2 separate regions of the Homo sapiens genome follow, and region 1 is linked to region 2. The links come from fine-mapping of genetic effects on gene expression. A gene starts in region 2. The other region holds a variant in brackets. All regions are shown on one strand. Distances are from middle to middle.

Region 1 (4,393 bases), 71 kb after region 2:
CCCTTCCCCTTGCACCTGGGTGGGCTTGAGGCTGCTTCACGCAATAGAGTATTGCAAAAGTGATCCTAGTGTTTTATGAGGCTGAGTCATAAGAAGTGATGTGGCTTTCGCCTTATTTGCTGGGATACACGCATTTGGAGCCTGAGGCTGCCATGCTGTGAGGAAGCCTGGCTCTGTGGGGAGTCATGTGCACACACTCCACTCAGCAGTTCTGCTCATTGTGTCTTCCCAGTTGGGGTCCCAGACATCATGAAACAGAAAAAAGTCATCTCTTCTCTGTCTCTTCTGTGCCCTCTCCAAATTCCTAACCCACCAAGTCTAGGAGAATAATAAAATAATTGCTTTATGCCAGTTAGTCTTGGGCTAATATGTTACACAGTGAAAGTAACTGGAACAATTTTCTATGATTCCAAAAGACTTTGTTTAGGCCGAGCACAGTGGCTTACGCCTGTAATTCCAGCTACTTGGGAGGCTGAGGCACAAGAATCACTTGAACCCAGAGACAGAGGTTACAGTGAGCTGAGATCATGCCACTGCACTGCAGCCTCAGCAACGGAGCAAGACCCTGTATCAAAAAAAAAAAAAAAAAGACTTGGTTTATGCCAACATTATAGCCCTTGATTACATTGCAGAATAATTTTATTTGTCCTGCTCAATGGATTGCAAGCTCCCCAAAGGCAGGAAGTCTGCTTTATTCATCTTTGTATACCTACTGCCAACCATGGTGCCTGGCACATGACAGATGCTTCATATATGTTTGTCAAATAAATATGTTTGTCATATATGTTTGTCTATATTTGAATATATAGATGTCAAATAATATTAGATGAAGTTATTTTAAAATTATAATATAACTTACATTGCCGGGCACAGTGGCTTCCTCCTGTAATCTCAGCATGTTGGGAGGCCAAGGCAGGTGGATGGCTAGAGCTCAGGAGTTCAAGACTAGGGTGGGCAACATGGTGAAACCCTGTCTCTACCAAAAAAAATACAAAAATTAGGTGGGTGTGGTGGTACACGCCTGTGGTCCCAGCTTCTCTAGAGGCTAAGGGGGAAAGATCGCTTGAGCCCAGGAGGCAGAGGTTGCAGTGAGCTGAGATCGTGCCACTGCACTCTGGCCTGGGCGATAGAGCCAGACTTTGTCTCAAAAAAATAAAAAATAGATTTAAAAAAATTTTTAAATTTTAAAATTGTAATTTAAACTTATAATCACTAGAAATTTTTATCCAGTGCCTCAAACTCCATGGATTCTCAAAAACCCATACAATGGCTGGCAGTGCTTGTATATCTGCATATACATTTAACACACGTCACGTGAGTGTGCACACGCATTTTGTGTGCATTTGTTCTCCCCAGACTCCTCACCCCAGCCTCACCAGCATCTACGTATTTATTGGACTAATCACTCAAAGAGATCCCCTAACTTGGGCTAGCTTACAGGAATCCCTTTATTCTTCCCTGCCACATAAATCATGCCTGAACATAAAACCCTCCTTGAAGTCATTCCTGTTGAATTAGCACAGAACATGACAGAGAGCTGGCCTCTGGCTTCCAAACCAAGCCAGCAGTAAGCCTGTAGGATTCTTAATAGGTTCTTTCATGGGATAGCCACACATCCTTTAACCAGCAGTGGCTTGCACATTCTTCCTTGATTGTTAAACACTATTTTTATGCAGTTTGAGTAAGCCAAGAAAGTAGAGTTTTTGTTTTCATTGCCAGCTTTAGCTGACTATATATAGATACATATTATATGCTCACACAGATATGTGACATATATATGTATATTCACACCAAGTTTTCTCCGTCGGGTTAGCAGCCTGATTTGGCTTCACTCTGGAGCTTAGAGCTCCTGGTGAGACTTCAGGGAATGCTGTTCACTTGCTCTTCCATGTGCTATAGAGGAAAAATCTGTGCCAGCCCTGCTAAATGCCAGGCAAAAGCTTCATTCTGTCTTCATTTATTTTGTTGGGTTTGAGGTGAATCTTGATTTAGTTTTCACATGCAAACCAATTATGCCACTTTTCAAGGGTCTAACTTTGTAAACAGCATTTCAAGAAGCCGCATAAATCAACAAGCCATGTAAAGGGGCCGAGATTAAAGTACACATGAAATTTACCCAGAACTGAAATCAAAGACTCAGATTAGGATTGGTGGAGGAATTTATATGTGAACCATATAAGTGGGAGATGGGATTTTTCTGGGATGAGAAGGTGCCTGGGAGACCACACGATGGATGGTGGTGGGCCAAGAAGAAACTGGTCATTAACCTGTCTGTAGGCTGTGACATAAGAAGAATTCAGCCAGGTGCAGTAGCTCACGCCTGTGTTCCCAGCACTTTGGAAGGCTGAGGCAGGCAGACCACTTGAGGTCGGGAGTTTGAGACCAGCTTCGCCAACATGGTGAGACCATGTCTGCACTAAAAATACAAAAATTAGCCGGGTGTGGTGGGGCA[T/C]GTCTGTAATCCCAGCTACTTGGAAAGCTGAGGCAAGAGAATCAGTTGAGCCCAGGAGGCAGAGGTTGCAGTGAGCCAAGATCATGACACTCCACTCCAGCCTGGGTGACAGAGCAAGACTCTTTCTCAAAAACAAAACAAAACAAACAGTAAAGTGTCCAGAATAGGCAAACCCTCAGGGGCATCGTAGATTAGTCCTTTCCAGAGACTAGGGGGTGGGTAGGTGGGGGGTGACTGCTGCTGGCCAGGGGGTTTCATTTTTGGGAAGTGATAAAAATGTTCTTTTTTTTTTTTTTTTTTTGAGACAGAGTCTTGCTCTGTCACCAGGCTGGAGTGCAGTGGTGCAATCTCAGCTCACTGCCACCTCTGCCTTCCAGGTTCAAGTGATTCTCCTGTCTCATCTTGCCGAGTAGCTGGGACTACAGGTGCCCACCACCACACTCGGCTAACATTTATATTTTTAGTAGAGACGGGGTTTCACCATGTTGGCCAGAATGGTCTTAATCTCTTGACCTCGTGATCCACCCGCCTCGGCCTCCCAAAGTGTTGGAATTACAGGCGTGAGCCACGGCGACTGGTCAAGAATGTTCTTTAACTGAGAATGGTGATGGTTATAGCTCTGTATATTGTACACCTGAAAAAGATAAATTTTATAGTGTATGGATTACAGCTCAAAATACTTCATGGCTTCAAACAACAACTCACTGCTATTTCTCACAGTTTTTTGGATGATGGGGTTCAGCTGAGCAGTTCTCATCTGGGTTCTCTCTGAAGTTGCCGTCAGATGCTGGCTGGGGTGACAGTCACCCAAGGCTTTGACTGGGCTAGATGTCCAAGAGAGCTCGCTACATAGCTGGCAGTTGATGCTGGCAGTTGGGTGTTGACCAGGGCAACCACACATAGCCTCTCAATGTGACTGGGGCCTCTCACCAAAGTGGCAACTGGCTTGTCAGAGGGAACCAAGAGGCAGGAAGCTTCCAGGCCAGATGGCACAGCATCATTTCCACCATGTTGTGTTTGTTAAAGGAGTCACAGATCCTGCTCACATTCAAGGGAGACGTGACAAGGTCCCATTGCAGAAGACCACATGGTTTCGGAGATATTACCGTAGGTATCTTTGGAAAATACAATCTGCCATGCTATCCTAAACATCAAGTTGGAAATAATAAGATCTTCAGAGTGTCTGGTCTATTGCCATGTATAATAAAAAATTGGGGACCTATAATCATATTGGTGACAATCTCTGTGTGAATAACCTCTTCCCTATTGTATTTAGAAATAAACTCATCCAGAAACCTCAGTTGTCTCTGCAGGGCTCTGGAGCATGGAGAGATGATGGTTTCTGGGTTCCCCGTCTATGCAGGATTTAATGATATTGGGTCTGGGAAAAGGCACTCAACGTTATATCCCACCACAGGGTCAGCATCCTCAAGCACTGTGTTCTTACAGCTCCAAACATCTGCAGGTATTTCTATAAAACCTTTGCTCGCCATGCCTCTATGCAAGTTCTAATAGGTTATACTTCAAGAAATCTCTTTTTCTTTGCTTCCCGGATATTAGCAGGGAAGAAAGAAAGATCTACTAAGACTAATCTGAGTAGAATTCCAATTCAGTGAAGTAAGATACTTAGGGCCGCATCAACGTTCACCCCAAGTTTATTTTACTTGCAAAATCATAATGCTGGAGCTAAAAATACCCTAATAACATGCATAATGAATAAGGAAACTCAATATTGGTAGGCTTTGGTTGTTACAGTAAAACCCGTTTTCTCCTGTGAATCATTTATTCAAATGACCACCCTTCTTTACAGTCCATCTCCTAATCTATACACCAAAATTTTGGCCAGCCATGGCAGCTCACACCTCTAATCCCAGGACTTTAAGAGGCCAAGGCTAGAGGACCACTTGAGGCCAGGAGTTTGAGACCAGCCTGGGCAACATG
Region 2 (4,393 bases):
CTCAGGAACAGAAAGCTTCAGATGGATGGAAGTGGCAGTACAGACTGTTGAAAAGACATCTTGTCCACCTTTGTAAGGCTAGACTATTTGTGGTGTGGATGTCAAGGGGTACCTGGGCAAGTTCAAGGGCACTGCTCAGGGCATACCAGCAACAATGGATTCTCAAAGCACAGGAGGAGGATGAAGGGGACACTCCAGCACAAGCTAGGATTCCATGGTGGAAGCAGCTAAGTAAATGTATTCTTCCAGGAGTGACCTTCCATAGAGATAGTGTCTCTGACCACGCTGAAGCTGAACTGGAGCTGGGCAAGGCAGAGAGGTTCAAATGAAGGGTGACTCCCACTATCACACCAAGCCCCACTGGGCAGCTGACCTGCCTGCCCATCCTCCTCCTCCTTAGACAGAAAACAGCGAATTCCATTCGCCTTTCTGCTCTCAATGAAAGGCTCTCTTTGGGTTCTTTACTAATCTACAATCTGTAAAAGTACTTTCCCTGTGACTTTTCTCCATTTCAGTACTGTCTTCTCTAAATGAGAATTAAAAGCAAGTTCCCCACACCGACCTCAAGTGGTTTCTAAGATAGCAAGAGTGCATTTTGCAGGTTGTCTGAGAATTTAAAAGAGATGGGGGAGGGGAGGAAATAGAGTCAGAGTGAATGCAGAAATGCTGGAGAAGAAAACGGGATATAATACTGCGGAATATTTTAATAGTGGGGACACAAATGTCATAATTAATAAAGCAGGTGGAAAGTTCGCGCTGTGGTGCAATTGTAAAGAATGCTTATTAAATACTTAAAAACAAAGAAAATTTACGTTTCTCAAAAGGACAGCTGAAAAATTCCTTGAGCTAAAATGTGTTGCTATTCAAGATGCCATAAAACTAATGTTAAAATATGATATCTCATTTCAATCTTTTTGGGGGAAAAAATCAGGCTTTGACTCACTCATACGACAGATCCCACGCACCCACCCACCAACATGGCCCTTGGCATGGGCGACCTGCCCACGTGTCGATGCAATCGTGCCTCTCTAGAGCCCTGCTTCCATCCGTTTCCCGAGCTTCGATGTCGTGACGAGAGACCGCGGCTACATCAACCTTGGGCAACCAGATGCAGCCGCGTGCGGCAGCCTGGCACTGCCCGGAGCATGCTCAGTCGGGTCCTGACCCACTTCTGCAGGTCCGACCTCGGGGCGTGGGGTCAGAGGCACTACTTTGCCAGTTTGCCAGGAACAGAGAGGAGCAGAGAGACTGAGAGTTGCTAAAGCTCCTCTCTTGGCACAGCAATGCCTGACCCGGCGGCGGAACATGCCCAGTCTGGCTGCCGGAGCCGCCGGGAGCGTCAATGTGGAAAGTCCACCTTTCCGGGTTTTCGCAGCAACCCACCGGGAAGAGGGCGGTACGGGAGTAAAAAGGCCGGAGTGGGGTGTGGCCAAGAGGGCGGGCACTAAAAAGCCGGGGGAAGGAGCCTGGTCCCGCCCCAGAAATTGAGAGTCTCTGTTCTCTTTTAAAATTAAAAAAAAAAAAAAAAAAAGGGAGATAAGGAGGAGAAGAAGCCACTAACATTGCAGGATCGTGTAGCGAAACTTCTGTAGGTACTTAATAATTTTAGAGTACTCTACTTTTTAATTAAAAAATCAACTTATGGTTCATTAGAAAAAACGTGGAAATTACAAATAATATTTTTAAAGAAAATGAAAAAAAAATTCCTGGAACCCCACCACTCAGAAAGTCACCAGGGAACGGCCCGCTGGGTTTTTTTCCAGACTCTTCCATCTGTGGACTTTGCTTTAAGAGACGTTTAAGACTTACAGCGCAGTCGCCCGGGAAGGCCTGAGAAGCTTTCGGAAGCAAGGTGGTTTGCTCGTGATTGCATTTGATTGCAAGGAGACAGGGTAGGCTTGGGGGTGGGTTGACTGGTTCCCATTTAGCGCCCCAGGATGGGACCCTAAGAAGCCTTTTCCTGGGTGTCCTTGAACACGCGTGCGATGCGACGCCCACAGAAGTTGCGGTGGAAGCCCCGGGCGGGAGAGAGAGCGGAGTGAGAGTCCCGCGCTGCCGCGGAGGCCCTGGGCCTGCGGGTGTGGGGCTCTGGGGGCCGCCGAGGCCCGGCCCAGAGGCTGAGCGGACTGAATGCGGGACTCCCCGGCAACTACAGCCTCCGGTGGCTCCTCCGCGGGGCCGCTCCGCAGCACCGACTGGCTCGCGCCGCACCGCCCGCCCCGCTGCCCCCGCCCGCGGCTGCCGCGAAAACCCGGCGGCTACACCCGCGCCTCCGCGCCGCCCGGCGAGCCGCACTGGGCATGCTCGGCCCCGGCCGGCCCAGGCTCCTGTAGGTGGGAAGCTCCGCGCTCCCGGCAGCCGGCGGCGCAGCTCGCAACGCTGTGAGGCGCCGGCGGAGGCGGCTCGCCCGCAGTAGGCGCTACCGGGCGTCCGGCGCAGAGTGCGGCGCAGCGGCCGCTGTCGGGCTGGCCATGGCGAGGGGTGCACGGCGGCCACCTGAGTGGCGCGGCGGTGTCAGGTTAGCGGGGGCCCCCGGCGGGCCGGGGCGGAGGGGCACGGGTGGGAGCCAGCCCCGCACCGGGTCGGCGGCCGAGTCGGCGCCGGGGCCGCCGAACTTTCGGGTGTTTGGGCTGGCTGAGACTGCGGCGGAGGCTGCGCTGCGAGACGCCGCAGGGTCCGGGCAGCGGGCTCCAGGGGGTCGCAGGATGCTTCGAGATCCGTGCGGGGCGGGGGCTGGCCGTTTGGGGACTGCCGCATCCTGGGCTCGAACCGTAACCTTCCGAGGGCGAGGAGCGCGGAATCCACTGCCAGCTGCCGGCGAGCCTCCTAGGTGTCGTGGGGGAAGGGGACGCCGAACAGCCGTGGGGGCTTTCGCTGGGCTCTGGATCTCTCTCATCGCTGTGCCTCAGTTTACCCGGACAGGGAGGAGCGTGCGCTGGCCAGGGCTCCGGAGAACGTGAATGCGGGTTCCGCGTCGGGAGGGCGCCGTGTCCTGATGCCGCAGGAGTGCGGGCGGCTGTGGGTGCTGCGAGCCGCCGCCTCGCTACTGAAGCTCTCGGAGTTTGTCGCATTTGACTCCATAACAAGTTGACATCGAATTGCTTCATGGCGTGGAATGGGGAAACGTGCTTCATCGGATTAAAATACAGAGTGATTGCAGAACCGATTTATTTTAAGCTTGATCATTAAGCTGTCTTCTCCAGCCCTGAAAAAAAAACTTGCAAGCTTTATAAAGCAAGGTAGCAAAAAAAGGTTTGTAGGTGTATTATCTGCTCACATTGTAGAAAACAGTTAAGATACGATCGAACTGTCATTATTTTTAAGGATACTTAGCAGAAAAGTTTGGTTACTGTGGCAATCTTTATTTTGCGTTATCTTCGATTTAATGTTAAAAACTTGGAAACCGAGCATTGCAGAAGCTCAGTGTTTTTTGTAGTTTTCTCACTTTTGTTTCTAGATGAAACACATTTTTTTCAGTTGCTACTATGCTGAACATAGTAAAATCCTTCAAGATGAAATACAAGATGGAAAAAAATGTCGTTTCATGAGACCGTAAGTTATAACAGTGTAGTTCTTCTGACATTTTACTTACACAGAAAGTGCAATTTGTAGGTCCCAGTGTGGTTTCTACAGTTGTTTATTCCTAAAACATTTAGTACCATTAACACTATTAGGATTATTGTATCTAATAGGGGCAAGATAAACAATCCTGTTCTAGTGGGAACTAGTTCTGCTAACTAAAGCTAAATTCTCAAGCCTCTTTTCTATAAGTACCACTTAGTGGGTTCAGTTGTTTTATTCATTAAGCTTATTACAAAACAATTGTTTACATTCTTTATAGACCTTAATAGACTTTAGAAATGCATTGACTTTTCATTGAGTTGTGGGTAGGCTTTAAGGTTGGTGCTTGCTTGCAAGCCTGAGATGGCTCCAGCTCTAATTCTGGATACTCTCTGGGGTGATTTCCCCCAGTATAGAGTTGGCTCTGTCCTGTGATGCTGCATAACCGAGGTTTAATAATAGGAAAGGCTTGAAACATCCAGACAACAGCAGTAGCAACAACATGATTACCATTTTTATGAATTAGAACCTGCAGTCCCCCATTTTAGCCAAATAGTCTGGTTGGTGATGTTCACTCATCCTAAATTTATTTCTAAATACATTTATAGAAAAATAAGTTTGAAAACTCCAACACAAATATTGAATAATTGTGCTTCTCTTTTCTATAAAAATGCATCAAGTTTAAAATCTTTCATGAAGTACTGCCTGCATGTACACCTTATCCTGAACAGCAGGTCTCATATCCTCAGGTGACATTCCCCAGTAGAAGTAGCTAGAGTCTCCCCTTAGCCTTGGGTTCTTCCTGACCTGGAGGAAGCAGCAAGGCCTCAGT

Which allele goes with the higher level. Positions count from the first base shown, and alleles are read on the strand shown. Sizes are in standard deviations (SD) of each study's normalised expression.
With allele T in place of C in region 1, the expression in thyroid of the gene that starts at base 2,357 in region 2 is higher (moderate effect, 0.42 SD a copy in GTEx).

What was found. PIP is the estimated chance that this variant, and not a neighbour inherited with it, causes the effect. A credible set is the group of variants that fine-mapping cannot tell apart.
Region 1: its variant is the best candidate, but not a certain one, in a credible set for the expression of MFAP3L in thyroid (GTEx, PIP 0.69).

The regions. Positions count from the first base shown.
Region 1 is chr4:169,953,776-169,958,168 of GRCh38, reverse strand. All of the region lies in intron 1 of LINC02275 (long intergenic non-protein coding RNA 2275), which reads left to right. Among named protein-coding and RNA genes, the nearest start is that of LINC02275, 20 kb to the left of the region's middle. The variant T/C (reference allele first, on the strand shown) is at 2,453.
Region 2 is chr4:170,024,359-170,028,751 of GRCh38, reverse strand. It overlaps MFAP3L (microfibril associated protein 3 like), which reads left to right and starts at 2,357. Exons shown (of 3, transcript NM_021647.8): 1 at 2,357-2,518. RefSeq lists enhancers at 1,132-1,271, 1,261-1,980 and silencers at 1,452-1,521, 1,980-2,379, 2,460-2,549.